2 separate regions of the Homo sapiens genome follow, and region 2 is linked to region 1. The links come from fine-mapping of genetic effects on gene expression. A gene starts in region 1. The other region holds a variant in brackets. All regions are shown on one strand. Distances are from middle to middle. Region 1 holds the start of HIGD1A (HIG1 hypoxia inducible domain family member 1A). Region 2 holds the start of HHATL-AS1 (HHATL antisense RNA 1).

Region 1 (15,410 bases):
TCCCCCTGTGGGACTCCCTGGGAAGGGGACACCTAGAATTTTGTGTCTGGTTTATCCTACACTTCATTCTATATGTCTTTGTTGACTTTAACCTATATCCCATTGCTGTAATAAACTATGACTGTAACAAGCATTTTTGAGTCTTATGAGTCTTGGCCCAATCATCTAACCTGAGGATGGTCTTGGGGTCCCCCAATACAACATTATGCACTGAAATAAGACTCAATAAAATAAGAAGTCTCAGCTGGAGTGGCAGCTCACGCCTATAATCCTAGCACTAGGCTGAGGGCAGGCGGATTGCTTGAGCCCAGGAGTTCAAGACTAGCCTAGGCAGTATCGCAAAACCCCGTGTCTATACAAAACTACAAAAATTCGCTGGGCGTGGTGGTGCACACCTGTGGTCCCAGCTACTTAGGAGGCTGAGGTGGGAGGATCAAGAACCTGAGAGGTCGAGGGATGGGGGCAGTGAGCTATGATCAAGCCACTGCACTTCAGTCTAGGTGAAAGAGACCCTGTCTCCAAAAAGAAAAAAAAAGTCTGAATACATACAGAAGAATCTTTATGATGAGATTTATATCATGCCAATCTCAGCATATTTCAACATAAGAAAAAAATGGAAAATACATTCTTTCAGGATATTGCTAAATGAACAAATTATCACGGCTCTACCATATTCAAGACTACTAAAATGTCAGTCAAACTTACCAACGGGTACGAATGGTGCCTCTTTAGCTTTTCGAATGAGTTTTGATCCCTGATCTTCCTCATATGAAGGAAGGGAAACACCTGTGTCTGTTGACATAGTGATTGCTTGAAGAATCTCCCTGAGAAAGAATTTCTATGAGGTTCTGTAATTAAAAGCATCTGAACATTATTAAATATCTGGATGTATTTAAAATATTCCTAACTTCCATGAGAATCTTAGTATATGTTATCCATAATCCTAAAGTTAAAAAATATTTTTAGAAATTAACTGTATTTTTAATGTACAGTCACTCTCAAGGGAGAGTTGTATACACTTATTCCCCCTATTATTTTGCCGTTTCCCCTGTACAACCCATTCATTTTTAGCACCATGTTAATTAAAAATAGTGAAAAATTTTAAATTGATGTTACTTTTATCAATTAAAATAGTAGCTACTAATTTTCTGGCTATCTTCATCCTTAATCAACTATTTAACTTGACAATTTTAAGTTACTCAAACCAAACTGACAACTCCTATTGAACCTTCAATATCATGTTGGAAATCCTACTTAGCACTTTTCGGTGTAGTTAAATGCAGTCTTTATTGCTTTCAACTGCTGATTTATTTATTCCAATGTGCTTCCTTGCTTCAATTTTCACTTCAGATTAGTTTCCAGTCTATTACAGTAATCTGTTATCCATGGTGGTTGCCTCTGGGGAAAAGATTATTCTGAATAGCCAAAGTTTCTACCTAGCTCATTATTTACTCATTTTAAGAACAAAGCTTTTATTTTAAATATTGGTAGAAATGTCTCCTTCATAGCCTTTTAGATTTTTTTAATGACCTATGATTAGTTTTTTTTCTTTTTTGAGACTGAGTCTTGCTCTGTTGCCCAGGGTGGAGTGCAGTGGCACGATCTCGGCTCACTGCAACCTCCATTTGGCACACACCACCGTGCCTAATTTTTTTGTATTCTTTAGTAGAGACAGGGTTTCACTCCTGACCTCACGTGATCCACCCACCTCAGCCTCCCAAACTGCTGGGATTACAGGTGTGAGCCACTGTGCCAGCTTATGATTAGCTTTTTTTTTTTTTTTTGAGATGGAGTTTCGTTCTTGTTGCCCAGGCTGGAGTGCAATGGCGTAGTCTTGGTTCACTGCAACCTCTGCCTCCCAGGTTCAAGTGATTCTCCTGCCTCAGCCTCCCAAATACCTGGGATTAGAAGTGCCTGCCACCATGCCTGGCTAATTTTTTTTGTATTTTTAGTAGAGATGGGGTTTCACCATCTTGACCAGGCTGGTCTCGAACTCCTGACCTCAGGTGATCCACCTGCCTCCCAGTGTTGGGATTACAGGCATGAGCTACCACACCTGGCCCTATGATTAGCACCTTTTAACATCACTGCAGCACAAAACTGAATTACCCTCAGGGTCTTCTTAATATCTTCTAAGCTTCAGATCTGCCTTCATTTACATACCTTATATCCCCTAGGCTTCCTTTTAAAACTCTACCCTCTTTTTATAATTCCTTTAAATGGTATCCCAAAGGCAAGATCTAGCCTGATAGTGTATGAGTAAGGGGATAGGAAAAAAAAAAAAAGGATTCATTTTCATTATCACAGGGATCAAAGGCTCCTTTCCTCCTTTTCAGTCATCTCCGTGAATAGCCCTTTTATCACAATGAGGCATTAACAAATGCTATTTCATTTTAGCCACAATAACAAAGTATACTTTCTTCACTGAACTATTTTGAATTGCAATAAACTTTACTCACAGATAAAATAAGGGCCTGAAGCATAGTGTAAGCATACAAGTCTCTAATTAGTGTCAATTACAATAAACTTAAAAGTCTATGCCCATCCTAACACCCATATAAAATCTTACTTTCACTTCTGGGTTTTTCATGTGCATTATGCTCCCTTTGATAAAAGTACCTCTCATTCAACACCTTGCTACTCAAGGGGAGTCAGTGGCAGTTAAGGTCCTCAACAAAAATGCAACTCCGGAGGGGGTGGTGTGCTTAGTTTAGAAAGTGAATTCATCCCTATAAGCCTCACCTTCATTGAGAAGACTCAACTGTCATCTGACATAGAAGAAAATCTTAGCTAAATAAAAGAAAATTTAGATTGGACTTAAACCTTCTTTTTGTACTCCATTACTTCTTAACTGAATAAACTCCTAAGTAATGAGCTTTATTATATATAAGGTTCAATAAGCTCAAGGTTCAAGATACTCACTATATATCTGAATAATACAATATAAACACTAAAGTAATTAATCGTTCAAAAATTAGTTGTTGTTTTTTTTTTTAAAAAAAAAAGAGAAATCATGTAACCGCCAAACAGGTTCACCTTGCCCGCTGGCTAGACAGAGCTGATTTACCAAGACAGGGGAATTGCAATAGAGAAAGAGCAATTCACCCAAAGCCAGCTGTGTGGGAGACCAGGATTTTTATTATTAGTCAAATCAGTCTCTTGGAGCATTCAGGGATCAGTTTTTAAGGATAATTTGGTGGGTGGGGGAAGGCCAGAGAACAGAGTGCTGATTGGTTGGGTTGGAGATGAAATGGGAAGTTGAAGCTGTCCTCTTGTGCTGAGTCAGTTCCTAGGTAGGGGACATAAGATCAGACGAGCCAGTTTATTGATCTGGGTGGTGCCAGTTGGTCTATCAAGTGCAGGGTCTGCAAAATATCTCAAGCACTGATCTTAGGAGCATTTTAGGGAGGGTTAGAATCTTATAACTTCCGTCCCTCTCCCTCTCCCTCTCCCTCTCCGTCTCCCTCTCCGTCTCCCTCTCCCTCTCCCTCCTTCTCCGTCTCCGTCTCCGTCTCCGTCTCCGTCTCCCTCTCCCCACGGTCTCCCTCTCATGCGGAGCCGAAGCTGGACTGTACTGCTGCCATCTCGGCTCACTGCAACCTCCCTGCCTGATTCTCCTGCCTCAGCCTGCCGAGTGCCTGCGATTGCAGGCACGCGCCGCCACGCCTGACTGGTTTTGGTGGAGACGGGGTTTCGCTGTGTTGGCCGGGCCGGTCTCCAGCCCCTAACCGCGAGTGATCCGCCAACCTCGGCCTCCCGAGGTGCCGGGATTGCAGACGGAGTCTCGTTCACTCAGTGCTCAGTGGTGCCCAGGCTGGAGTGCAGTGGCGTGATCTCGGCTCACTACAACCTCCACCTCCCAGCCGCCTGCCTTGGCCTCCCAAAGTGCCGAGATTGCAGCCTCTGCCCGGCCGCCACCCCGTCTGGGAAGTGAGGAGTGTCTCTGCCTGGCCGCCCATCGTCTGGGATGTGAGGAGCCCCTCTGCCCGGCCGCCCAGTCTGGGAAGTGAGGAGCGTCTCCGCCCGGCCGCCATCCCATCTAGGAAGTGAGGAGCGCCTCTTCCCAGCCGCCATCACATCTAGGAAGTGAGGAGCGTCTCTGCCCGGCCGCCCATCGTCTGAGATGTGGGGAGCGCCTCTGCCCCACCGCCCCATCTGGGATGTGAGGAGCGCCTCTGCCCGGCCGAGACCCCGTCTGGGAGGTGAGGAGCGTCTCTGCCCGGCCGCCCCGTCTGAGAAGTGAGGAGACCCTCTGCCTGGCAACCACCCCGTCTGAGAAGTGAGGAGCCCCTCCGCCCGGCAGCTGCCCCGTCTGAGAAGTGAGGAGCCTCTCCGCCCAGCAGCCACCCCATCTGGGAAGTGAGGAGCATCTCCGCCCGGCAGCCACCCCGTCCGGGAGGGAGGTGAGGGGGGGTCAGCCCCCCGCCCGGCCAGCCGCCCCATCCGGGAGGGAGGTGGGGGGTCAGCCCCCCGCCCGGCCAGCCGTGCCATCCGGGAGGGAGGTGGGGGGGTCAGCCCCCCGCCCGGCCAGCCGCCCGGTCCGGGAGGTGAGGGGCGCCTCTGCCCGGCCGCCCCTACTGGGAAGTGAGGAGCCCCTCTGCCCGGCCAGCCGCCCCGTCCGGGAGGGAGGTGGGGGGGTCAGCCCTCCGCCCGGCCAGCCGCCCCGTCTGGGAGGTGAGGGGCGCCTCTGCCCGGCCGCCCCTACTGGGAAGTGAGGAGCCCCTCTGCCCGGCCAGCCGCCCCGTCCGGGAGGGAGGTGGGGGGGTCGGCCCCCCGCCCGGCCAGCCGCCCCGTCCGGGAGGGAGGTGGGGGTGTCGGCCCCCCGCCCGGCCAGCCGCCCCGTCCGGGAGGGAGGTGGGGGGGGTCAGCTCCCCTGCCCGGCCAGCCGCCCCGTCCGGGAGGTGAGGGGCGCCTCTGCCCGGCCACCCCTACTGGGAAGTGAGGAGCCCCTCTGCCCGGCCAGCCGCCCCGTCCGCGAGGGAGGTGGGGGGGTCAGCCCCCCGCCCGGCCAGCCGCCCCGTCCGGGAGGGAGGTGGGGGGGGTCAGCCCCCCTGCCCGGCCAGCCGCCCCGTCTGGGAGGTGAGGGGCGCCTCTGCCCGGCCGCCCCTACTGGGAAGTGAGGAGCCCCTCTGGCTGGCCAGCCGCCCCGTCCGGGAGGGAGGTGGGGGGTCAGCCCCCCGACCGGCCAGCCGCCCCGTCCGGGAGGGAGGTGGGGGGGGTCAGCCCCCCGCCCGGCCAGCCGCCCCGCCCGGGAGGTGAGGGGCGCCTCTGCCCGGCCGCCCCTACTGGGAAGTGAGGAGCCCCTCTGCCCGGCCACCACCCCGTCTGGGAGGTGTGCCCAACAGCTCATTGAGAACGGGCCAGGATGACAATGGCGGCTTTGTGGAATAGAAAGGCGGGAAAGGTGGGGAAAAGATTGAGAAATCGGATGGTTGCCGTGTCTGTGTAGAAAGAAGTAGACATGGGAGACTTTTCATTTTGTTCTGCACTAAGAAAAATTCCTCTGCCTTGGGATCCTGTTGATCTGTGACCTTACCCCCAACCCTGTGCTCTCTGAAACATGTGCTGTGTCCACTCAGGGTTAAATGGATTAAGGGCGGTGCAAGATGTGCTTTGTTAAACAGATGCTTGAAGGCAGCATGCTCGTTAAGAGTCATCACCAATCCCTAATCTCAAGTAATCAGGGACACAAACACTGCGGAAGGCCGCAGGGTCCTCTGCCTAGGAAAACCAGAGACCTTTGTTCACTTGTTTATCTGCTGACCTTCCCTCCACTATTGTCCCATGACCCTGCCAAATCCCCCTCTGTGAGAAACACCCAAGAATTATCAATAAAAAAATAAATTAAAAAAAAAAAAAAAAAAAAAAGAATCTTATAACTTCCAGCTGCACGACTCCTAAACCATAATTTCTAATCTGTGGCTAATTCATTAAACCTACAAAGGCAGTCTAGTCCCCAGGCAAGAAGGGGGTTTGTTTTAGGAAAGGGCTGTTACCATCTTTGCTTTATTTTTCTATTTTTGTTTTATGAGACAGGGTCTAGTTGCCACGCAGGCTGGAGCACGATCTCGATCTTTGCTCACCGCAACCTCTGCCTCCGAGGTTTGAGTGATTTGTGCCTTAGCCTAACAGCTGGGATAACAGGTGTGCACCACCATGCCTGGTTTTTTTTTTTTGTATTTTTAGTATAGATGGGGTTTTGCCATGTTGGCCAGCCTGGTCTCAAACTCCTGGCCCCAAGTGATTTGCCCGCCTCAGCCTCCCAAAGTGCTAGGATTATAGACGTGAACCATCATGCCTGGCTCCATCTTTTTTTGGCTAGGTCAGATCTCTTTCACTGTCTCAGTTATAATTTTGCAATGGTGGTTTCAATCACAGTGTAATTAGTTGTCAAAAGCCTAACACAGACAAGGTCTGAATTTAGAGAGAGTGATGTATTTTAGCTAAAGGAGGTTTGGCACGTTTCACAGAGAAACACTTGAGACTGGCTTTGAAGAAACTGCATAAATGGACTGGATAGAGAGATTAAACACTGTATTTATTTTAGGCCAGTATGTTTACTAGTTGCCTTCATATCTAATCATGAACTTCTCGGGCAGGTGCGGTGGCTCATGCCTGTAATCCCAGCACTTTGGGGCACCAAGGTGGGCAATCACTTGAGGTCAGGAGTTCGAAACCAGCCTGGTCAACATGGTGAAACCCCCATCTCTACTAAAAATACAAAAATTAGCTGGGCATAGTGGTGTGCATGCCTGAAATCCCAGCTACTTGGGAAGCTGAGGCAGGAGGATCGCTTGAACCCGGGAGGCAGAGGTTGCAGTGCGCTGAAATTGTGCAACTGCACTCCAGCCTGGGCCACAGAGAGACTCTGTCTCAAATTTTAAAAAATAAAAGAAAAAGAAAAAGAAAAAGAAAAAAAAAACATGACCTTCTCAAAGGGGAAGTTTATCACAAATCCTTTCATTTCCCTTCCCAACCCCACATTCTGACCACATTAAATATTTTTAAGATGCTCTCTATACCTCTAAGCCTTTGCACAAGCTGATTCCTCTACTTGTGAGAGTTTCCCTCCCTTTCCATCCCCTTCAGATACTCTTTCCTAGCTAACTCCTCCCATTTTTTTTTTCAGGTTTGGTTTTTCTTTTTTTACACTGAGTCAGAACATTATTTTAATAGTTACAAAACTTTTTTTTTAACAGAATCAGTATAAAATAGCAGTTGATTTCTCCATAATTATCAGAATTATTTATATTTGAGGTCTTGCCTAAGTGGGGCTGAAATCAACAAAAGGTCTTGGACTACTGGCTCAGAAATCATCCTAGGAAGCCCGCCCTGTTGACATTTGTCATGCTTAGCTCTTATGAGATGACCCGGTCCTTTAAAAAAAAAAAAAGTATCTCCGTTTATTCTGTTTATTTGGAGGTTTGAAGTGAATTCGGCAGCATTCATTAAACTCCTTCCAGCTCCTGTCATTTATCATTCTGACTACATCCATTTCAACTTTGCCTGCTCTGTTCTGAGTTGCTTTAACAATATTAAATCGTCCAAATTCTTTTCTCTCTCTTCTCAGAGGTTTTTTACTACTGCTGAGGTCTGGGCTATATAGTTTTTTATGACTCTGTCCCTACTGGCATGAGCTGCCATCAAAGACTCAAAGTTGTTTACAGGTTTGGCTGGCATCAATCTTCCCTGCAAAGGAAGCTGTTGGAACTGTAGTGTTTAATTAATGTACTAGTCTGTATCAACTGTCCACATCACCTTGAGTAATTCCTGGAACTCGGCGAACTCCTCACAGTTCACACTGCCACTGGGTGCCACCATACTGGACTCAGGTTCACATCTTAATTGACCTCCTCTCAGAAATTTTTGTCTCTTTAAGTTCGTAAGTGCTTTGGTTATGCAGTCCCATAGGACCTTGTACTTTCCTTATAACCCTTATAAGCACCAGTTTGTCTGTTTCTTTTGCTAGAATCCTTCAAGTCAGGGACCAATACCTGCTCTGCTTGTATCCAACTCCACTGCCTGGTGCAATACCCTATATATAATATGTACACTACAAATGTTTCTTGAATACATTTAAAAGTTACATTTCTCAACAACTGAAAGCATTCTTAGGTTATTCAGTAATATTGAGTACAAAAAAATAACAATCATACAGATTTGTAGAGTTTAATCAGTAAGAAAAATGCCTAACTGTATGTACCTAAGTGCTTATTTCTTTTATGTTTCTTATATTGTACCTATGAAAAGAGAAATAACCTGAGGTCTTAGTTCCTTGCAACACAGGGGACAAAACTATTATATACCATAATCCACTTTTAAAAACTAAAAACTTCTGCAGATATAAAAGCATGTTTTCCCCTTTTTTGCCTGAATCATTTCTAAACTAAAAAATCATTTGGGAATTGTCTTTAAAAGCAAGAAAGTTGGTAGCCGGGCATGGTGGTGCACACCTGTAGTCCCAGCTCCTCAGGAGGCTGAGGCAGGAGGGCTGCTTGAGCCTGGAAAGTGGAGGTTGCGGTGAGCCATGATCCAGCCACTGCACTCCAGCCGGGGCAACAGGCAAGACCCTTGCTGAGGGACCCAACAAACAAACAAAAACAGGACATAAATCGTTTTTTAAAAATAGCAAGAAAGTTGGTAGTTTTTCTTATAATTATCTCACATCTGGCTGACTCTAATTCTCCAACAGGTCAATGGAGCAAAAGGTTTTTTTTTTTTTCTCCTTTCAGGAGGGAGGGGGTTAGTTGTCTCTTTCCTGTATATAAATCAAGAACAGAAGAAAACCTATTTCTCCGTTCTTCATCTATGATACAGACTCTGAAGCTTGTATGGATAGGGCATTTGACCTGGGTTTCAGAAAGTAGCCCCTGCGGTAAGCATCAGGGTGTGGGGAACAAAATGGTCATTATTTGCTTGAAACGACAGATGATAATCTGTCTGTGATTCCAGAATACCTTATGTGTACATTTCAGAATAAAATTAGTAAGGATTAATATTTAAAAATCCAACACATATCAGTTATTTGTTATTCTGTAGTCAAAATATTATAATTCCCATATAGTACATATCTAAAATACTCTCTGAATACAAAATTTTGATAACTGTCTAATTACCACGTAGAAGTTTCCAAAGTATTCATGGTTTATAGCCACCTGAATTGAAAACTGGTTAAGTATCAGGAACAATAAGTTCTAATCATATAATTTGAGAGTAACAAATCAGATGAATAATCCAAGCCAATAGCCTTATTTTACAGGTGGGGAAAGGGTTGTGAGAGGGTTATACGAATTGCTCAGTACAAGGAATACATGTCTGGTGGGGTAGGATTAGAATCCAGCTCTTCTGATAGAGAGTCCTGGGTTCTTTTGATTGACGATATATTGCCAAAGCATCAATCTTACGCTGCTGATGTAAATTAGATTAAATTGGCAGATAAGAATTCTGATTAGAAAATTTAAGAATCCATTACTCAACAGAAGCCCACGTTGTTCTCTTTGAATGATATATATAAAAAAATCATGCCTAAGGTAAACGGAATCTTCTTCAGTGACTTAACTCATCTAACAATTTCAATTGTGATTTGAAAAGACTTTTTTCACTACACCACTGCCAGACTTTCCTTCATTATCGTTTTCTCATCCACCCACAGTAGTTGTCCCAGATTTCTGTCAGAAAGTTGAATAGACGCTAAAAAAGGCACCAGTAACCAGATATTTAAAGTCAGTTTGGAGAGCACAAATTAATTCTGTACGCTTAGTAAGACACGACTGAAGACCTTTCCACAGGGAACCTAAAGAGGCATTAAGGGAAGATGAGCCGTCCAGCATCAGGAGACGTAACAGGTTGAATGAAGGATCTTTCTTCACAGTCATTTTGTCACGGGAATTACTATCTAAAGCAACGCTGGCTTCAAACTGATTTTGCATCAGTCGCCCATCAGCTTGTTTAAAATGGCTGCCAAGGCCCCAGCATGGAGATCCGGATTCAGGTGGTCTGGGGCAGAGCTCAAGGAATCTTTAAGAAGCCCCTTCAAGTGACTCTGGTGCACAAAGAGAACTCCTAGTATACAGGACTCCAAATATGTGTGTCATGCTGGAGCTTCATGACCAGGTTGTCACCGCTTCAACCTGTTAGAACTTTCCATCCAAACCTGTCTTACTCCAAAGTGCCTTTGTACTTCCGGAAGCAGGGATCCCTGTCGTGGGGATTACTCCGAAGAGGGAAATAGCTGCTTCCCACTCCGGGAATTTAAGACAAAGGCGAATATCACTGCTGCATCATGTCGGCTGCTCCTAATTCTGCCCTTACGCTGTGCTTTGTAATCTCTAACCCGCCGACTCGGCAGGAGAAAAATTTAATTCGGTCACAGAAGCACTACACAGGACCCTAGGCCTTATCACTTTCCCAGGGTGGAGGAAACACCAGGTCGGGGAGAAAAGCAAGACCAGGACTGGAAGGTCCTCTGCTAGTACGCCCTCCCCTCAACCTCCCGACCTTCCTCGCCGCCTCTCTTCCTGTGACCTTGTCGTGACTCCGTGACCGGAGCGCTCGCTCTCCTATCCCGCCTCGCCTGCCGCTTAGCCCGCTCTTCAGAATGTTCCAAGCTCCGGGGAAGCTCCCGCTCCTCGCTCCCCGCCGTCGGGCCCAGTCAACACCCTCCTGGCCCCCGTCTCTCATTACCACCCCATCAGCGAGTCTTCCCCGCTCGGCAACTCACTCCACAAGCTTCTGCTCCATCTCCTCGCTGGCTCCGTCTCCCCTCACCCGAAGGACCCTAGGCCTCGGCTCCCGACTCCTCTCATCCGCCCATGCTCGAGGCCGGGCCTGAGCCCCGGCAACTCCACCTCTCCTCCCTCATTCGAGACACGGACTCCCAGCCCCCACCCCCAAAGTCCTTTCGGCCTGGCCAAGCGCTGCCCCACTTCTTCCCGCCCCGCGGCCCGAGTCCCTGGCTCGCAGTCCCCCGGCTTGTTTCGCTTACCTAGAGCGAGAAAACCTCTCACACCCCAACCGGCTTCCGATCCCTGCAGGCGCACCCAGTCCTCCCGGCTTCTCCCCACCCACAGCCGTCCCAGCCAATCAGAGGCCAGCGGCCGCAAAAGGACGCGTGCGTGTGCGCGGCGGGTGGGGCAGTGCAGAGCGGGTCCTGGATTGGCTGGGCCGGTGAGTGCTGGCCCACTACCCCGGCTCTAGCGTACTGGCGGAGACAGACGTGAGAGCTCGGCGCCTGGGGTTCGCGCCCGGGCACTTGAGGGGCTTTGGCTCCTGGCCCAAGGACTCCTCAGATTTCTCCTGCCCTTTTCCCCTCGGGCAGCGGAGGCGAGCACCGCGAACGCCGTGTCCCGAGCGCCGCCGCCTGCGGACGCCTCACGGGCCGGGAAGGGATGCGGGTGAGGGGTTTCGGCTGCGGGTGAGGTTGTGTTCCCCGACCCACCCGGGTCCGACTGCTTGTTCTCGCCGTTCAGTAACGAGATGCAGACAGACTGGGAAAGAACGGAGTTTATTTCTGCAACAGGTTACAGGGAGAAGGTCGGAGTAACTCACCAGACCAACTCAAAATTATTAATACAAGTTTTTCTAGTGCTTAAATACATTCAGTGCATTTACAAGTCGAAAGCCAAAGTGTTTCACTCAAGCCAATCTTTAACGGTAATAGGGTCAGGTGTCTAGACAATTGCTTCAGAGCCTTGGAAATAATCTAAAGTGGGTCCTGGTACAAGGTGTGCAAGAACAACTCCATTATTTTAATTAAACTCTAGGGGTTGAAAAAGCTCAGGCGGGATCCTAATGGACTTGTCTTTACATTCTAGCCTTTCTCCTAAGGCACCAGTTTCTCCAATGTTTAACTTATACATGCATCAGAATGACAGTGAGGCGTTGGTGAGAGCTGCTCTGGTTGCTAATGGAGATCTGGCCTGCCACAGTGGGAGCAGAGCTTGCCCAGTGCGCCGGGACGACTGCGGGCTCCATCCATTCCGCTCCCAGGGCGGTTGTCGGCCAGGACCGTGAGCTGTCAGGTCCCCCGCGGGATCCTTCCTGGAGCTTACACTATAGTAGGAGGCAGCCAGTACTTGCAAGCACGGGGTCGCGGGAACTACGACCTCACCCAGGCCAGGCGACCTTTCTCTCAAGAAGGAGATGTCAGAGGCCCCTCGTGACAGCGAGCTTCCGGGGACAGGGCTCCTAATGTGTTTGTCAAGTAAATAATGAGTAATAATCCGGCCAATTGGTGGGTCAACGAAAAAAGTCAAACTCTAAGATATTTGAAGAGATTTATTCTGAACCAAATGTGAGTGACCGTGGCCCCTGACACAGCCCTCAGGAGGTCCTGAGAACATGTGCCCAAGGTGGTCCAGGCACACTTGGTTTTATACATTTTAGAGAGGCATGAGACATCAATCAAATACATTTAAGAAATACATTGGTTTGGTCCAGAAACGGGGGACAACTCAAAGGCGAGAGGGGAGGGGGCTTCCAGGCTATAGGTAAATTTAAACATTTTCTGGTTGATAATTGGTTGAGTTTGTCTGAAGACCTGGGATCAACAGAAAGGGAATGTTCAAGTTAAGATAAAAGATTGTGGAGACCAAGGTTCTTTTGAAGTCTTGTAGTGGCTGCCTTTAGAGACAATAGATGACAAATGTTTCCTATTCAGATGTTTGAAAGGTGCTAGACTTTTAATCTCTTTAGGATTGGGGGGCCTGGAAGAAAAAGATCTAGCTATGTTATAGGGATTCTTTACAGATGAGAATTTTTCCCCGCAAAGGACAGCTTTGTATGGCCATTTCAAGATATGGCAAAGAAATATGTTTTGGGGTAAAATATTTTTATTTTCTTCCTTGTCTTATAATGTTATGCCAGAGTCAAGTTGGAAAGTAAGTCACGATATATAGAGTTAAATAAAACCCATTTGATGATAACTTATTATTTGTGGGGCATGACTCCCCAGACCCCTTAGATAGGAATTTGGGCATGATAAAAAAAATCAGAGCTTAGTCCTCAGATGCAAAGCATCTACAACTGCACCATGGAGAAATCTGTGATTAAGTTAGAGTTTCTTGATATAACCACAAAACAAGGCAGACTACCAAGTGCTCGTCATACAGATAGGAACTAAATGTCATGGGCTCAGGATTTTGAAAATCGTTCATCTCATAATTAAGATACATGTAAGAAACATTTCATGCTATGGATGATTAAGAACTTCATACTTCGCTGGGCACGGTGGCTCACGCCTGTAATCCAAGCACTTTGGGAGGCTGAGGCAGGCGGATCACCAGGTCAGGAGATCGAGACCATACTGGCTAACACAGTGAAACCCCGTCTCTACTAAAAATACAAAAAATTAGCCGGGTGTGGTGGCGTGCACCTGTAGTCCCAGCTACTGGAGAGACTGAGGCAGGAGAATGGCGTGAACCCGGGAATCGGAGCTTGTAGTGAGCCAAGATCGCACCACTGCACTCCAGCCTGGGTGACAGAGAGAGATTCTGTCAAAAAAAAAAAAAAAAAAAAAAGAGAGAACTTCATACTTTGATTATATGGTAGCTTTCAGCTCCTTGAAGGCACATATTTTGTCTGGATGATCCTGGTATCTCCTTGAATGCTGCCTGTGTGCTCAATAGAAATTCAATAATGGTAAATGAAGAAAGATGTAAATGCTGCAATAACTGGAGGGTTTAAAAGATAAGTAGGGATAGTCAGGAACTATAGGATAAACCCCACTGCCTTCAATATGAAGGTCAACCGGAAGTCATTAGTCTCTTGATTCTGTAAACACAAAGGCTAATGGCAGCAGTGACCAAAGCATATTCATTTCTGAAGGCAATGTATATGCCTCAAACTAACATCAGCTAACTTGTTAATTTCCAGAGAATAAGATATACTGCCCCATCAGCGGAGAGCAACTAGTTGGCAACATACTAGCCGTGACCTTGGATTTGATTTCTCAAAGTGTCACTTTTTTCACTTGTAAAATGGGGGGTAACATGAATGATGGTTAAAGAGGAAATATATGTAGCATGTTAGCCCCATGCTTGGCATGAAAAATGTTAGCTATTGCTTTAAAAATTCCTTGCTGTGTACTGTGCAAAAAGAGTCAGACCTTGCCCTTGAAGCTGTAAGTATAAGCACCTTTTAAACCAATTACTATTAGGGCTCCCAATCCAGACCCCAAGAGAGGGTTCTTGGATCTCCTGCAAGAAGTAATTCTAGACGAATCCATAGAGTACAGTGAAGGCAAGCTTATTAGAAAAGTAAAGGAATAAAAGAATGGCTACTCTATAGGCAGAATACCCCCAAGGGCTGCTGGTTGCCTATTTTTATGGTTATTTCTTGATTGTATGCTAAACAAAGGGTGGATTATTCATGCCTCCCCTTTTTAGACCATATAGGGTAACTTCCTGATGTTGCCATGGCATTTGTAAAATGTCATGGTGCTGGTGGGAGTGTAGCAGTGAGGATGACCAGAGGTCACTCTCGTCGCCATGTTGGTTTTGGTGGGTTTTAGCTGGCTTCTTTACTGCAACCTGTTTTATCAGCAAGGTCTTTATGACCTGTACCTTGTGCCAATCTCCCATGTCATCCTATGACTTAGAATGCCTAACCTCCTATCTCATCCTGTGACTTAGAATGCCTAACTGTCTGGGAATGTAGCCCAGTAGGTCTCAGCCTTATCTTACCTAGCCCCTATTCAAGATGGAGTTGCTCTGGTTCAATCATCTCTGATGATTGATTGGTATAAAGGTCAAATAGCTAGTAAGTAATAGAGGTAGAGGACTGTAAACTAGGAATTTTGATTCCGCTATATTTTAGGAATATAGTATCGCTCAACAGCAAGTAATTTTTAAGACATAGAAAGGAAATACATTTTTATATATAAGCTGGACTCTATTCATAATATTAAAAAATAAGGATTTAGACAAATTATAGGATGACAGATCCACATAGATAATTTAAGGAAGTTAGATATGCACTCTATGGCTACAACTGTGTGGAAGATGCACATTTGTCCCCCAAAATCTCTTTATTGAGGCTACTGGTATACACTACTTGGTAGAATTGTCATTAGTCTGACCCAGTTTGAATGACGGTTGAATTTAGGAGAAAAAAGTCCCATCTTTCGACAAAAGTGTACCAGCCCTGTCAGTTTAAGGGAGAAAACATAAACAGAGGCAGTGTAGGGGTGGAAAGGGGATGATCCCTTTCTTTCCCATCATAAGCGTTACAGCTAACACTCCTATAACAAAAGACAGGTTAACAAGAGAAAATTACTAGCCTGGACAACATGGCAAAACCCCGTCTCTACAGAAAATACAAAAATTTGCTGGGTGTGATGGTGTGCCTCTGTAGTCCCAGCTACTCAGGAGGCTGAGGTGAGCAGATCACTTGAGCCTGGGAGGTCAAGGCTG
Region 2 (15,854 bases), 92 kb before region 1:
GCCAAAACCGCTCCTGCCAAGGCCCCCATGACCTGCGTGCGGAGAAACCCCACCTCTATCACTACAGTCAGGTTTCTGCCTGCAGGGTCCCCACCTCGATCAGTGAGTCTCCCTTAGCTCCTCACAAAGCCCCAGCTTCTCTAAGACCCTTTCTCTGACTCCCACTCCCCTCCCTGAGATCCCATGACCACCCCAGGTGCTGCCCCTAGAGCCAAGCCTCCATCCTCGCATTAAGCCTCCAGCCTGTCACTGACCCCCATTCCCCCAACAAGTCCCTGAGCTCCAGCCTGTCACATCCCAGTCCCTGCCTGTGTCCGTGACCACACTGCCCCACTCTCTCAGCGCTCTGTGTATTCAGGCCCTGGGCACCAGCTGGAGGCTGTGCTATTTGAGGAGGTGCCCAGGAGTAGCGGATGTGGGGCCAGGCGGGGCCAGGCGGGGCCAGGGAGGGCACTGGCTGCTGTCCAAGGTGCTGACCAGAATCAGGCCCCGGCTGAGTCTCACCACTCCCTCCAGCGGGGGCCTAGCTTGTCCCCTGGAGAACTGCTGGGCCGTACTACGGCTCAGCTAGCACCTTTACCCTTCCTATCCCGCTTCAGCCTGGCTCAGGGGCTTCCCAAGGACTCCATGGATACAGACATAGGACCCAAATTAAAGGGAGGAAGCAGGGAACATGTCCAGGCAACTCTTGGGCTGACGGGGCCAAGAGGTGGCTGATGTGGCCCTTTTGCCCACCCTTGATCCTCCCCTAAATCTTCATCCCCAGCCCTGTAGCCATCTCCCCTGGGCCCCCCAGCAGCCGACGGTCTCCTCGTACAGATGGAGGGGTCATGGGCCAGATAGGGGCAGGGACCTGTCAAGGTCACATGGCAGACCTGGGACAGACTTCTGCCTGCCTCCCTTCAGGATTGGGTTTCTCAGTGACCCCCCTCTGGAATCTGGGGTAAGAGAAGACCACCACTGCCCCTGCCCACAGCAGAGGCTGCCAGCCTGATGGCTGTGCTGTCGGCCTGAGGGTGGAGGCACCTCCTCATCAGTTGGGTGGGGGTGGAGAGGCCCTGGGGATCAGGTTAATGGAGCAGGAGCTTGAAACCGGAGCATGGTGAAGAGCCCGTGAAATAGCTTTGTCAGCTGCCTCCCACTCGCCACTTTCCAATTTTAGCTCCCCATGGCCGGTGCGGGGTGTCCCCAGTGAGGCCTCTGCAAGGAGCTGGCCCCCAGCCTGGGGCCTCTCCTGATAGACCCCCAGACCAGGGCTGGCCTGTGGACACGGGGGCATACCCTTTCCCCTGGTCCTGCCTGCCCCAGATGCCCCGGGGGTAAAGCCCCTTTTGGGGCCTGTGATTTGGGATGAGGGCCTGGGGTGTGCCCCACAAGTCTCAAGAGCCCCAGAGTAGCTGCATCCCCAGCTGGCACTGACCTTGAGGAGGCCGCAAGGGACCCTGGCACACTGCCCACCTCAGGCTCTGGGGTCCGGCTTCCAACTGTCCGTCCGTGCGACCGGCTGAGCTCTGGGGCCACGGTGGGGTGTGTCCAGCCCTGGGGTCCCCACCCCCTTGAGGTTATGAGCGGTGAGTGGTGACAGCGGGAGGAGGAGGGGGAGGAGGAGGTGGCCTTCCTGGAGCGGAGCTGAGCAGAGTGGAGCAGAGCCGAGTGCTGCAGAGCTGCTGGCCACAGGGAGCCGCAGGGAGGATCCTTGAAGGGGGGCGGGTGCTGGGTGGGGGGAGGGTGTCCAGTAGCATAGGCTCAGACAGGGACACCTGGGCCTCTCTTCAGCCTGCCTCCCCTGGCTCCTAGAGAGCCTGTGCCTCTCTCTCACTGCTACCCAGGACTTCCCTCTTCCAGGAAGACTCCTGGTGGTCCCACCAGCCTCTCCAGGCTTGTAAGCCCTGCCCCCACCACAGACACACACAGTCACAACATGCAAACACTTTCATGCTTGGGCTCCAGGGACTCCAGCTCCTACCTTTACATATGACCTCCTAAGGGCTATCCCAGGGCAGACTTGTCTCGCCCCATGACCTGGTCCTTTTCATTATGCCGTGAGTCCTGGCTGGCCATGCATCAGTGCCTGAGGGAGGGCTGACTTGCCTGATGGGACTGGAACTGGCATGGGACATGTGGCTGAGAGGGATCCCCATAAGTCAGCCCTGTCCCATAGGGAGTGTCCTGGATGGAGGGGTGCTAGCAGGGTCACTTGGCAAGGCTTGTGGGTACTTGGAATGGCTGGTATCCTCTCGGTGGCAGAGTGGAGGCAGACAGGAAGACAGGTGTGTTCCTAACCAACTGGGAGTCCTGGTAGGACAGGGCCCTCATTCTGGAAGGGAGCATCCAAGGCCTCAGCCCTGGATACCTGAGGGGAGGGGCATCCTGAAGGTGCCCCTGAGATTAAGAACCTCTGACAGTGCCCCTTCGGTTGAGGCCAAGTCTCGGGCAGCTGTATGTGTCTGTGCTATCTAGGGGGACCTGTTCACCTGTGTGCTTGTGGGGAGGCTCTCGGGGGTAGAAGGAGCTTTGTGGCTGTGATCAGTCACAGGACAGCTCCTGGAGCCCCTGCTGATCCTATGACCCCAGCTTCAGGCTCAGTTGAGGAGGCAGGAGGGAGGTGCTGCTCCCCACCCATCAGGGCCCAGGAAGGGGAGAGACTGCACTTAGGCAGGGAGCTGCCTCCCGAGCACATAGACACGCTGGCCTGGAGAACAGCAAGGAGACGCCCAACCTACACACTCCACACAGGACACAGAGGCCCGTGTCTGTGGTCCCCGACCCTGAGAAGCATGAATGGTGACTACTGCACAGTGTGGGTGCTGGGTTAGAGCTGTGGTGGGTAATGGGCACTAGAGAGGCCAGCATCAGGAAGGGAAGGATACCTGAGCCAGACTTCAGGGTTAAGGAGGGCTTCCTCAGGGAGGGGTAGTCAAAGGTTGTTAGGAGTAAGTTAATCATAGTAGCCAGGATGTACATGGATTAACTTTTTAATGTCACCACAGCCCATAGGGAAGATGTTGCCACTGTACGCAGTTGGGAGAAGAAGGACCTGGCACATGAGGAAGCCAAGTAGTTGGATCAGCCCTGTAAGCTCCTGGCACTGACTGCCCTGCAGGGGCGACAACCCCGTGCACCCACACTGGGGCCCTCACGAGGCTCCAAGAAAATGGCTCAAGGGAGCAGACAGGGTGGTTTGACCCCAGAGTTAAGAACACAGGTTCAGCCAATTTACTTGACCCTGAGCTGGTGTGACCCACTTCTTAGGGCCTCAGATCCTCAGTTGTAAAATGGGCATACCGCTGGCCCTGGCCCTCACTGGGGTGGCAGGGGGCATCCGGTGATTCACTCCATGACAAGAGCCTTGCTCATAAACAGAGGCTATTAGAGAGCCACAGACACCCTGACCCCCAGAGGCCCAGAAAGGCTGGATTCACACTCAGAAGTGAGGCCTTCCCTGGGTGACCCACACACAGCAGGGTCTGCAGGGAGTGTGGTGTGCGGAAATGGCAAGAGGGGTGGAGGGCTAGGGAAGTCCCATGGATCTGTGGTTGGACAGCCTGAGGCCAGCTCCACTGTGTCTGAGGGGGGTGGCAGGGGAGGGCACCTGGCAAGGCCAGCCCACGTGAGGGACAGGAAGCTGACTGAGCTAAGACCAGCACTTGGCCCTGGGGCCAGCTTCCCAAATGCCACAAGGGCCACTAGGAAAGATATGGTGGGGAGTGGGGACAATTCTCTCAAATCTGAGTCCCTTTTCAATTTTCAGACTTTTTTTGTTTGGTTGTTGCTCAAAGTAAAAATGCGAGGAAAGTATCCTGTGTGTTTGCATGTACGTGTGCAACTGTGTTTTGTATCAGTTGTGTGTGGGTCTGTGTGTACGTTTTGTGTTGTAGGTTGTTCATGGCATGTGTTTGCTGTGTATGTGTATCCTGTGTATTGTGTGTGCACATGTATCGTACATACGTGTGTATATGTGTGTTGTGTGTGTGCAAGGCTCACAGATATAGGAGAGTCAGTGTACGTAAAGGCACACCTGTGGGGAGAAGGTGGGCAGGCCGACTTCTTTGTGCTCAGGGCTGGCTGTGGGCTGGCTGGGGGTGGGGAGGAGAAGCTTGTTCTGGCCCCTGGGTGTGGGGGTGCAGAGGAGCACACCCACTGGAGGTCACCCTGCCCTGGGCTCCTGGGAGCAGGGGAGGGGCCCAGTGACAATGTAGTGTGTTTAAGCCTGAGCCAGGCTGCAACCTTGCCCAGCTCAGCTGTGGTGCCCCAGAGGCCCCTGTGGGGACAGTGGCCAAACTACGTCCACAGCTCAGCCAGGTCTCACCTGTCAGTGCTGGAACCTGAGCACCAAGACCTGCAGCACCTGCCTGGGGTGTGGCAGGGAGAGCCCTCACTTGAGGCAACTTCACCACTTAACTCTTTACTTGCCCCTGCCCCTCAACCCGCCAGGGCACCTGCACCCTCCCCTCCAACTACCTCCTCGTGGATCTGGCCAGGGCCCTTGGTGTCTTATCCAGCACACCTGTTGCCCACCTGCCTGAGGGACAGGGAGGTCATCCTCAGGGTGCCCAGGACAGATGGTGCTACCCAGGAGAGGCACTGGTACTAACCTGGACAGACCAGCTGCCTGGCTGTGCACCTGGCCCACCTAAGTTAGGTTTCTCAGGGTCCCTATCTTTGACCCCTTTGATGACCTCCTTCCCTTGAAAATCCTTCTCCCAGGCTCTCCCCACCTTCCCTTTACTCCTCCTTGCTCCTTTGCCTCAGGGAGATGTGAAGCCCCCTCTCTACCCAGATCTGATCAAGGAGGTTGGGAACTTGGGAACTGCCACAGGGATGGGGTGGGGATGGTGGGGGAAGCCCTGTGGTGCTGCAGCCCGGTCCTGCATCCTTCCCCACCCAGCTCCATCATGGCGTTTCCCACACCTCTGATTGGACTGGAAACTCCCTGAAAGGAGGAAGCAAGTCAGATTCACCTCTAGGTCCCTCCCAGGCCTGGAGAGGCTGGCATGCTGTTGGCACTCACTGACTGCCTGGTGGCCGACTGGCTGGATGGAATGGTGACCTGTGACCAGTCTGTCTCTCTCCTCAGCTGATCTGAGAGTTCCTGGAGGCCAGGGACTGTGTTTGCCTCACCTCGGCACCTCTGTGCCTGGGGCAGAGGAACTGCTCAACAAGTTCTGGTTGAACAAATGGAGGGAACACTAAGAGCGAATAATTATTAAGCGCTTACTGTGTGCGAGCAGCTGCTGTAAGCAATGGACACTTTATCTCAGTGAACCCTGCAGAGGGTTCCAATGAGGGAATGGAGCAGACCTGATCTAACCAAGCTAGGGGTGGGGAGGTGCCCGGTGGTAGGTGCCAGCAGACATGACAGGCACTCCCGCACATGGCACCACAGCAATGCTGTCAAGGTTGCCCGTGGAATCTGAAAGCTGAAACACTCATCTTTATATACAGAGTTGGCCAAAGCAAGACACCAGCAAATCAGTTTACCCAAAAATGTGCAAACAAGATTTCCTGTGCCTGCCTGTCTGCAGTTTTTCTTTCCCCTCTCTCTTATATAACTCTTGTTGAAATCAGTCTATAGATACATGTTCCTTGTACAGAAATAAACAGAGAGCTAATAATTAGTGAAACGTCTTTGGGTTATTCTTTGACATACATATTAATAACAGCCCCCTGAGGGAGGATTCTATTATTGTCTGCATTTTATAGATGAGAATGTGGAGGATCAGAGAGGTTAAATAACTTGCCCAAGGCCACACAGCTGGTAAGTGGGGAGAGAAGTATGCCCCAGGCAGCCCCACCTGTCCAGACTCCATGACCTAATGCTCCTTCCTTTCTCAGGCATAGCCCAGGAAGGGCAGCAGAACCACCCTGAAGTGGCTGGAGTGTGGGTCACACCATCTCTGCACTTCCCTGAGGTGATCTTGAGGAAGGATGGCTGATCCTATGCCTGCTTCTCACTCCCTGGGACTGCACTGAGGCCAGAGCCTGTACCCCTCATACTCAGATCACCCTCTGGAGCTCCTCAGGGCCTGCAGGAGAAGGTGCTGACTCCTCTGTGTTCAGACTCTACATCCAGCCCACCCCTCGCTGTCACACACTGTCCCCTCCAAGCACAGACCCTCTCTCTCCTGGCTCTCTGCCTGGCCGTTTTCCTTCACAAGGAACCAGAGAAAAACTCTTCCTTCCCAGAGACCCTTAGGACCCCACCAGAATCATCAGTTCATCCCGGTGGCCTTTGCTCTAACTTGCTGTGGGATCTCTAGATCCGTGTGACCCCATGCAGGGTCAGGGGCTCCCTGAGGAGTGGGGGCCAGCTAGGGTCCCTCCATAGCCCCATCCCCAAGGAAGGGGCTGAGAAGACAGGGTCCCAGGAGCCGCAGTGGCTTTTCCAAGGAAGGAGCTGACAAGATGCTCGCAGGAGCCCCAGTGGCTTTTCCTGGGGAAGGGGGTGTTTTCACAGTATGTGCACCTGCATTTGTGCATCACTGCACAAGCAACACACAAGTGGCTATGTCTTCACGTGTGGGAATGTGTGTCCACATCCACATGTGTGTGCTCATCTGCACCTGTGTGTCCATGAGTGTGCACACATGGAGGTGCCTGTGTGCACGTACAGTTGCATGCTCCTGAATTGAGGTATGTGTGTGCATCTGCATCTTTGTGTGGGGCTGTGGGTGCACCTGTGTGGCCAGGGTGTCGGAGTTGGGGTGTGTGGCTATGAGTGACCCTCCTTGGGGCCACTCCTTCCTGTAGCTATAAGTGCATAGTTACAGCTGAGAAAGGGCAACACTGACAGTCATAGAGGCCTGCGGATCTTAGGGTGCCCCTGCAGCATCCCTCCAAGTTCACCATGGCGAGGGAGGTGCACTGTACCTTTGACTGGAGCCACTACCTCAAAACCCTTCTGCCTGAAGCTCCAGCTGAGCCCCACCTCGGCCCTCTGCCACCAGCATCCATCAGCAGTCTTGGTGAGCAAACAAAGATGCCTCTTGGAGCTGCTGCCTAGGGGTGGGGTTGTTCAGTGGTGGGTGGGTGCGCCTACCCTGGGTAATCTCTGAACGGCAAGACCCTGGTTTTGGGGTCAGGCAGACTGCAGTTAAATATTAGCTCAGCTTCTTTCTGTGAACCTCAGTTTCTTCATCTGTCAAATAAGACAACAAACCCCTGGGTCATTAGAGGACTGAATGGGGTCAGGTTGCCACAGTAGATGCTCACTCACTGGGAGCTGCAGTGATTATGAAAATACTTATTATTATTACAAGTCCAAGGGTCTGCACCTGAGGAAGTGTCCTGAGGAGTGGGCTGACAAACTGGTTGAGAGCATAGTGCCCCAAGTCTGTGTAGGGTGTGGACGGCTACAGATGGAGCCGGGATGGGGGTGAGGGGATAGGGCAGGGCTGAGTGGCATGGGGGATATGCCCACTTAGGGTAACCAAGGGCTCTTCTGTGTGTGAAGCCATGGGGACATCCAGGGCTAGTACCTAGGATGAGGGCGATGAACACCTGCCCGAGGGACTGCATCTGTCCATTCACAGCCGCCTTGCCATCCCAGAGCTCTCGCCTCTGCCAGTGGGCTGCTGGGCCTCCCTGCTGCTGTAACCCAGCCAGCCCAGGGTCTCCTGCAGTGTCCCACCAGGGCTTCTCTTCTGCCTTCCTGGCCTGAGACATTGGTTTTGGTCATCCTTAAGGAGCCTCTTCTGGTAGAAGTGGTTGAGCTGGCTGCCCTGGGCTGGCTTCCCGGAGCAGATGGAGTCCTCAGACAGAGTCTTATCCTCTCAAGACCTGAGGCTGCCCACCCGGCCAGGCCGACACTGGGCTGTCATCCTATTGCTTGCCTGTCTTCTGCTGCCGCAGGGCCTGCAGGAAGACACTTTTCACCTGGCCCAGGATCTCATGGTACATCCGGAAGTCCTCCTCCTTTCCCCGCAGGGCACTGCCCAGGGCAGCCTTTAGCATTTCATTCTCCTCCACCTGGATGGCCAGCCTGGACCACAGGAGACAGTGCTCAGTGTGGCTGGAGCTGCACACAGGTGTGCGTGGGTGACAGAGGGCCCTGGGAATGTGGTTGCCAGCATGGCTGCTCTTCAGGCTCAGGCTTCCCTCTGACCCATCCCCTCCTCTCACTGACTCTTGTGGGTACCATGGATTCCTCTCTATGGGCCTGGCTCCCTGCAATGTAAGCTACCTCAAGGCCCCTTACAAATTGAGTTCCAATTTGTAGAGGTTCCCGTCTTTCCCTTCCCATGGCTGCGTGGGGTCTTAAAAGGTTTAACGTAGTGAGAAACTGGTTCAGTGATCCATGCTTGATAAAATTTCTCTTGGACTATGGGTCATTGGGGTTTGGGCCGGGCCCTCTGTCCTCTGAAGGCCAGTCCCTGAATTGCAGGCCTAGAACCCAGGACCAAACAGGACAAGCCTTCTGGGCAAATGAGTCAAAAGTGCAAGGGGAGGGACACAGTCCCTCTGCCCATGGAGGCACCTCTGCTCAGACAACCCTACCCTTTCAGGAAGGCGGGGCAGGGGAGCACCTGGTTGTCAGCTCTTCCATTTGGGATTCCACGGGCACATCGGAGAGCTGGGCAAAGGATGGGTCCTTCTTCTCGCTCCCGGTTGGGTTGTGCCTGTTGTTAGAGGTGGGCAGACCTGTGGGGCAGCAGCAACCACTTTCTGTGAGGAGGCCACAGCCCTGTGCTAGCACCCTGCTTCTCCTCCCGCCATTGCCCACTGCCTGCTCTTCCACATGGTGAAACGCTACACCGCCTTCGGGGTGCAGGGCAACTCTGAGCTCTGCCTCCCTCCGAAGCCCTCCCTGATGCCTCCTCTGCATGCCTCTGCCCCTGGCTTTGGCCTCTGCTACAGCCCTGACTCTGCTCGCTTTGTACCAGGGTGGTTCCTCACCACCCTGTCTCCATCTTTATACTTTACAAGTTTCTGGTAATTTGTTTTCTTTTTTTTTTCTTTTTTTTTTTTTTGAGACAGAGTCTTGCTCTGTCACCCAGACTGGAGTGCAGTAGCGTGATCTCAGCTCACAGCAATCTGCGCCTCCAGGGTTCAAGCGATTCTTGTGCCTCCCGAGTAGCTGGGACAACAGGTGCCTGTCACCATGCCCAGCTAATTATTGTATTTTTTGCAGAGACAGGGTTTTATCATGTTGGCTAGGCCTCCCAAAGTGCCAGGATTACAGGCGTAAACCACCATGCCCAGCCTGGTAATTTGTTTTCAAAAAGAGAAACCAGCTGAGCCTGAGGTCTGGCCTGCAGGCTGAGCCCGAGTCTAGACTGTCACTGTACCTGATGCCCTCATACCAGTGGTCCCCATCCAGGCCATCAGCTTCATACTAGGAAGCAGGGGATCCAGGGTCCTGGAGTTGAAGGGTACAGAATGTTCACAAAAAGGAGACAAAGTGGCCCACGGTGGGGTGGTCCCAGAACTTTGGGAGGCCAAG[T/C]GGGGGCAGATTGCTTGAGGTCAGGAGTTCAAGACCAGTCTGGCCAACACGGTGAAACCCTGTCTCTACTAAAAATACATAAAAATTAGCCAGGCATGGAGGCATGCACCTCAAGACTAGTCTTGTGTAAACCTGTCTCATTGCTGGGGAGGCAGCAGAGTGGCTCTGCCCTCTACAGGGGCTGGACTGAGTGTTCTTCAGGGCCTTTCCTGGCTCCAGGGGACACTGCTAAGCTGCCCTTGGCTTATTCCACGCATTGAGCACCTCCACATCCCCAACTAGAGCTGCCCTGGATGGGAAACTGCTTGTTCAGCCTGATGGAATTTTCTAAGCCCTGTGACACAGGGAATCAAAAAGAGCCTCAGCCGGGTGCGGTGGCTCATGCCTATAATCCCAGCACTTTGGGAGGTCTAGGGGGGTGGATAATTTGAGGTCAGGAGTTCAAGACCAGCCCGGCCAACATGGTAAAACACCATCATTACTAAAAATACATAAATTAGCAGGGTGTGGTGGCGAACCCCTGTAATCCTAGCTACTTGGGAGGCTGAGGCAGGGGAATTGCTTGAACCAGGGAGGTGGAGGTTGCAGTGAGCTGAGATCGCACCGCTGCATTCCAGCCTGAGGGACAGAGTGAGACTCTGTCTCCAAAAAAAAAAAAAAAAAAAAGACAAAGCTCAACTGGTGGTGGCGAACTTGGGCAAAATCACAGCATCAGAAAACCTCGGGACTGAAAAGGCCCTCAGAGGTGGTGTGACCCACAGTAAATTACTTGGTATCAGAAGACCTGGCTTTCGCCCTCTGCTGAGAGGCCTCAGGCAAACTATCAGCCTCTCTGAGCTGGTTTCCTTAGCTGAAAAAAAGGATAATAGTTTATGCCTCTAGAGCTTTGGCAGCCTCAGTGAATTCTATTTGGCTCTCAAGGCCCTGTGTGATTGGACCACTCCAGCCTCCCTGCCTCCTCCCTGTTCCTCCAAGCATCCAGCTAAGCTTCCAAGCACCGACACTTGTCTTTCCCTCAGGGATCGGCAGGCCACATCCCCTCCCAGTTCCTCCATCTCTGCTCAGATGTCTAGCTCCCCTACTGGAGTGAGACTGCCATGGGGGACTGAATTATAAATCTAGCCTCCTCATTTTACGGATGGGCCAGGGGGAGGCGGGTAAGTGGTGCTCTGCTCACCAGAGGGGCAGGATTTTGCCCATGTTAAAAGCCAGTAGGCAGCAGAGGCCACCTGGACACTTTCCCTCAGGCAGCTGCCCTCACTGTCCAGCAGGGAACAAAGTGACTTGCCTGCTGTGGCTTAGCTCTCCCTGGTTGGAAGTCCTGCTGCCCTACAGGAGGTAAGCCCCAGCCTGGAGAAGCCACACTCCTAGGGAACATATTCCTGAGAGTCCAAGAGGGTCAGCAAGGCTAAGCCCCAGAGACCCTTCCTTCCCGGCCTGGATTCTCAGAAGCTCCTGGCCCTGCTGGTGGGAGAAGAGAAAGCAAGTGGCCCCAACACCCTCTTTATGCCCTACTTCTGGCACACCCTTCTGAAACGTTCTGACCTCATCTGGGCTGAGGACTGAGACCAAGGGTCTGACCATCCTTGGCTGGGGAGGGGTTGGGGGGCTACTGGGGTGTTGAAAGAGGGTGCAGTGGGGGCAGCAGCACCTCCAGCATTCCAGCCTGGAGGGGGCTGGGATGGGTGGGATGGGAGGTCAGACAGAGGCAGGCCCAGCCCCTCCACATTGGAGACCCTTCCTCCCTGGGAGTCAGCCATCCCAGAAATGGCTTCTGGCTCTGGCATCCTCCAGCTCGCCCCAGCCCCACAGGATGCTGATGCTGCTCATCTGAATACTGCACCTTGAGAACCACTGTGTTCGAGCGATAGACTTTTCAGTTAAGGATAGCATTTCCCAGCTTCCCTCTGCACCTGGCTATGCCCAACTGTCTGGCTGATGGGATGAGAGCAGAAGTGACATATGCAACCGTAAAAGGTAAGGAGAAGTTTGTCTCCTTCCCTTCTCCCCTTCCTGCTGCTGATGGGAAAGCTCAGGCAGTCATTGTAGACCAGAAGATGGAAGCTGCATGTTGAGAACAGTGGAGCCACAAAACAGAGGGAGCTTGGGTCCCCAAACCTCTGGTGAGGCTACTTCCTGCTTATATCAACTTGACCATTGCAGGAGGCACAAAGGGACTCCTCCCCTGCTTCAGCCACTGTTGCTTGGGCTTCCCCAGCAGACCAGCTGTGCCCCATGACCACTTTGAATGAAGTCAGCTTAGGATAGAGGGTTGAGGGCTAGGGTGGCTGGGGGCATTCAGCACTGCCACCTCATGCTGAGGGCTTACAGGTGGCCAGGCCAGGGCCACACGAGGCAATGGAGCTCTGGGGCTCCTGCTTCTGACTGAGAGGCCTGGGGAAAAGAACACCCCACAGTGGAGGCAGGCAGAGCTCCACCCTGATGGAAGCTCTGCTTCCCACATGCTCACTGATGGGCTGAACAGTGCAGCTGCCTGGCTCCTCTGTTAGCAGCAACACTGCCTCCACCCCCTGCACTGAGACTACTGCCCTGGCCCCTACCTGTTTTGGTCCTGGGAGCTGCTCTCTGGGAGGCTGATGCCTTCCCTGGCTCCAGGCGTATCTTCTCCAGATGTTGCTCCAGCACCACGGTGCGGTGTCGCTCCTCCTGCAGCTTCCTCTCTGACTCCAGGAGCTTGCTGTTGCTCTCCTCCACCCTGGTGATTAGAGAGGAGGGGATGCTACATGCCCTGGCAGGCAGGGGCAGGCCCTACCCCACTTGCTCAGGCCCTTAGAGAGATGGGCACATCTTACATTGGTAGTGATGGGACCTCTTCATTTTCATTGCAGTAACACAGGAACATGCATTTAAACACCATATGGTTCTCTCCAAGGTTAAAATTTAAAAATTATCAGCCCACTCCCAGCCCCATCATTCCCAATTCCTGCTCTCTAAAAGCAATCACTTATAACACTTCTAGCTGTTTCTTTTAATATTTACTGCCATATTTCTACAGATGCTTATGTTGCTATTTTTAGGTTTATATAAGGTTTAAATATAATCTTTTGACTTCCTGTCATGCAAAATAAGAATTTAGTTTTATTTTAGTACTCTCCTCCTACGAAACAGAATCACCTGTATACGTTTTTGGATGAATTGATATTAGGTATCAGTTTTCTATCACAGCTATAACAAATTACCATAAATTTAGCAGCTTAAAACAACACAAATCTATTATCTCACAGTTCTGTAAGTCAGAGGCCTGGCAAGCTCAGTGGGTTTCTCTGCTTCTGGTTTCACAAGCCGAAATCAAGGGGTTGGCTGACCTGGGCTCTTATCTGGAGGTTCCGGGGGAAAATCCACTTTCAGGCCCATTCAGAGTGTTGACAGAATCCAGTTCCAGGTAGTTGAAGGACTGAGGTCCCTGTTCCCTGCAGGCTGCTGGTCAATTTCACCTTCTAGGAGCCACCTTGCCCCCTCCATCTTTAAAGCCAGCTAGATACCCTTAACACACTTTGAATCTCACTACCCTCTCTGACTTCCTCCACAGCAACTCTCTGAATAATCCCAGACGGAGATATTTCTCTGCTTTTAAGGGCTCAAAAGATTACATTGAGCCCACCAGATAATCCAGGATAATCTTTCCATTTTAGGGTCCATAACAATAATCATATCTGCAAAATCTCTTTTTCATGTAACATAAAGCACTCACAGGCATAACAGCAGGGAGCAAAGGGCATAGACACCAAAAGCCTGTCTACGTTAGGACAATTAGTTAGAGCCATGACGCACAGTGTCATATGTCCTTTCTCATTTAATTGTTCGCTTTTCTTGGAGTTAGTGATTATCTTAAGCTTATTGTTTTGTTTTCTACATGCCTGTCATAAATGTTATTTCACATGAAGCACTTGTTTAATCCCACTGGAGCTTGAGCTTAGGTCCTTCCTGTGGCTAGGTGTGCCATTTCAGACTTCTATGATACTAAAGGTTCATTTAGTGAGAAAGCCAGAACTCCCTGAGATCTAACCCAAGCCAAGAGTTACATGCACACCTGAAAATTAGAGGGGCAGCCTTGAAACTGACAGTGTTGGAGGAAGTGATCTTTCCACCTTGGTGAAGGGTCAAAAGGAACAGAATGACAACAATTTTGAACAGTATACAACTACTAATAAAAAGCTGTATAGTAACACAGTAAACAGCTACTAACACATATTTAAGCATATTCCTTGAGATTTTATTTGCAAAAGCAAAAACCCAAAACAACCTAAAGGCCCATCATCAGGGGACAAACAAGTAAGTGGTAACATATTCATACTATAGAACGTGATAGAATATGATAGAGCTGTGCTGCCCAACACAGTGACTGCGAGGTTCATGTCCACATGTAGCCATTAAAATTAAAGTTCAGGGGCTGGGCCCGGGGTCCCACACCTGTAATCCCAGCACTTTGGGTGGCCGAGGTGGGTGGATCACCTGAGGTCAGAAGTCTGAGACCAGACCAGCCTGGCCAACATGGTGAAACCTCGTCTCTACTAAAAATACAAAAAAAAAAAAAAAAATTAGCTAGGTGTGGTGGCATGCTCCTGTAATCCCGGCTATTTGGGAGGCTGAGGCAGGAGAATCACTTGAACCAGGGAGGTGGAGGTTACAGTGAGCTGAGATTGTGCCATTGTACTCCAGCCTGGGCAACAGGAGCGAAACTCTGTCTCAAAAAAAAAAAAAAAATTAAATTTCAGGCCACGCACGATGGCTCACGCCTGTGCTTTGGGAGGCATAGGTGGGTGGATCACTTGAGTCCAGGAGTTCAAGACCAGTCTAGACAACATGGTAAAACCCCATATCTACAACAAAAAATACAAAAATAAGCCTGGCACGGTGGCGTGTGCTTGTAGTCCCAGTTACTTGGAAGGCTGAGGTAGGAGGACCACTTGAGCCTGGGAGGCAGAGGTTGCAGTGAGCCGAGATCGCACCACTGCACTCTGGCCTGGGCAACAGAGCGAGGCTCTGTTGTAACAAAAAGAAAAAAAAATAAAGTTTATGAAAATTAAATTAAAAATTCATTTCCTCAGTCACACTAGTGACATTTCAAGTTCTTAAACTGTATTGGTCAGTGCAGATACTGAACAACTCCATCATCACAGAAAGTTCCACTGGTCAGTAGTGGAGTGTGTTAGTTATCATGAGAGTGGGTTTCTGATAAAGGATAACTTTGTCCCCACTTCAACTTTCCCCATGCCATTTCCCTTCTGCCTTCCACCACGGGATGCGGCAAGAAGGCCCTTGTCAGACGCTGGCACCTTGATATTGGACTTCCCAGCCACCAGAGCTGTGAGAAATAAATTTCTTTTCTTTATAAATTACTCAGTCTGTGGTATTCTGTTATAGCAACACAAAATGGACTAAGACACATCCTTGGACCCAGCTGGGTAACATACCTGAACTCCAGGACAAGGAGAAAAATCTTATAACAACAGCACAGCTAATACTTTTTTTGAGTGCTTTCCACATACCAACTACTGTGTTAAGGCACTGCATAAGCATTATTATGTTTAATTCTGTAAGTAAACAAGATGTACTAATATTACTTCAAGAAGACACAGAAAATCTAAATTTGAAAAAAGGTTGTCAAAGATCTACCTCCAAAAAAAAAAAAATCAGGTCAAGCCAGGTTCTCAAGAAAGTTCTATCTAACCTCCAAGGAACCAATGATTTTTGCTATTCTGACAATTCCACAATATAGAAGAAATAGATGGCTTCCTATAAGTTTACAAAAAACTTGATTTCCCAGTTAATAATAGGGTAAATGTATTAGTACTGCTGCATAACAAGTTACCACAAATAGTGGCTTGAAACAATAAAAAATTTCCAAAAAACATAAAGAGCTACTACAACTCAACAACAGGACAAACAACCCAATTAAAAAGTAGGCAAAAGACTTGTGTTTCTCCAAAGAAAATATACAAATGTCCAATAAGCACATAAATAGATGCTCAACATCATTAGCCATTAGGGAAATGCAAATCCAAACCACAAAGAGATATCACTTCAAACCTACTAGGATGGCTATTATTGAAAAAAAGGAAAATAAGTGTTGGTGAGGATATAGAAAAATTAGAACCCTTGTACACTGCTGGTGGGACTATAAAGTGGTGCAGCCATTGTGGAAAAGTTTGGTGGCTCCTTAAAAAGCTAACCATAAAATTACCCTATGATCAAACAATTCCACTTCTCAAATTGAAAACGGGGACTCAAACAGGTACTTGTACAGCAATGTTCTTGTAGCATTATTCACAATAGCCAAAAAGGTGGAAACAATCCAAGTGTCCATCAACAGATGAATAGATTGACAAAATGTGGTACATGCACACAATAAAATATTATTCAGTCATAAAAAGGAATGAAGTTCTGACAT

Evidence for each region. PIP is the estimated chance that this variant, and not a neighbour inherited with it, causes the effect.
Region 2: its variant is the best candidate, but not a certain one, in a credible set for the expression of HIGD1A in sigmoid colon (GTEx, PIP 0.56).

The regions. Positions count from the first base shown.
Region 1 is chr3:42,793,452-42,808,861 of GRCh38, forward strand. It overlaps HIGD1A (HIG1 hypoxia inducible domain family member 1A), which reads right to left and starts at 11,039. Exons shown (of 4, transcript NM_014056.4): 1 at 10,985-11,039; 2 at 706-824. The coding sequence starts at 802. It also overlaps the pseudogene MIX23P4. RefSeq lists a silencer at 10,995-11,214 and an enhancer at 12,076-12,873.
Region 2 is chr3:42,701,159-42,717,012 of GRCh38, forward strand. It overlaps CCDC13 (coiled-coil domain containing 13), which reads right to left. Exons shown (of 16, transcript NM_144719.4): 14 at 12,004-12,158; 15 at 8,526-8,640; 16 at 4,598-7,981. The coding sequence ends at 7,822. HHATL-AS1 (HHATL antisense RNA 1) reads left to right here and starts at 1,383. Exons shown (of 3, transcript NR_146957.1): 1 at 1,383-1,571; 2 at 2,991-3,074; 3 at 4,889-5,607. It overlaps HHATL (hedgehog acyltransferase like), which reads right to left and starts at 1,640. Exons shown (of 12, transcript NM_020707.4): 1 at 1,421-1,640. RefSeq lists a silencer at 356-425. The variant T/C (reference allele first, on the strand shown) is at 9,443.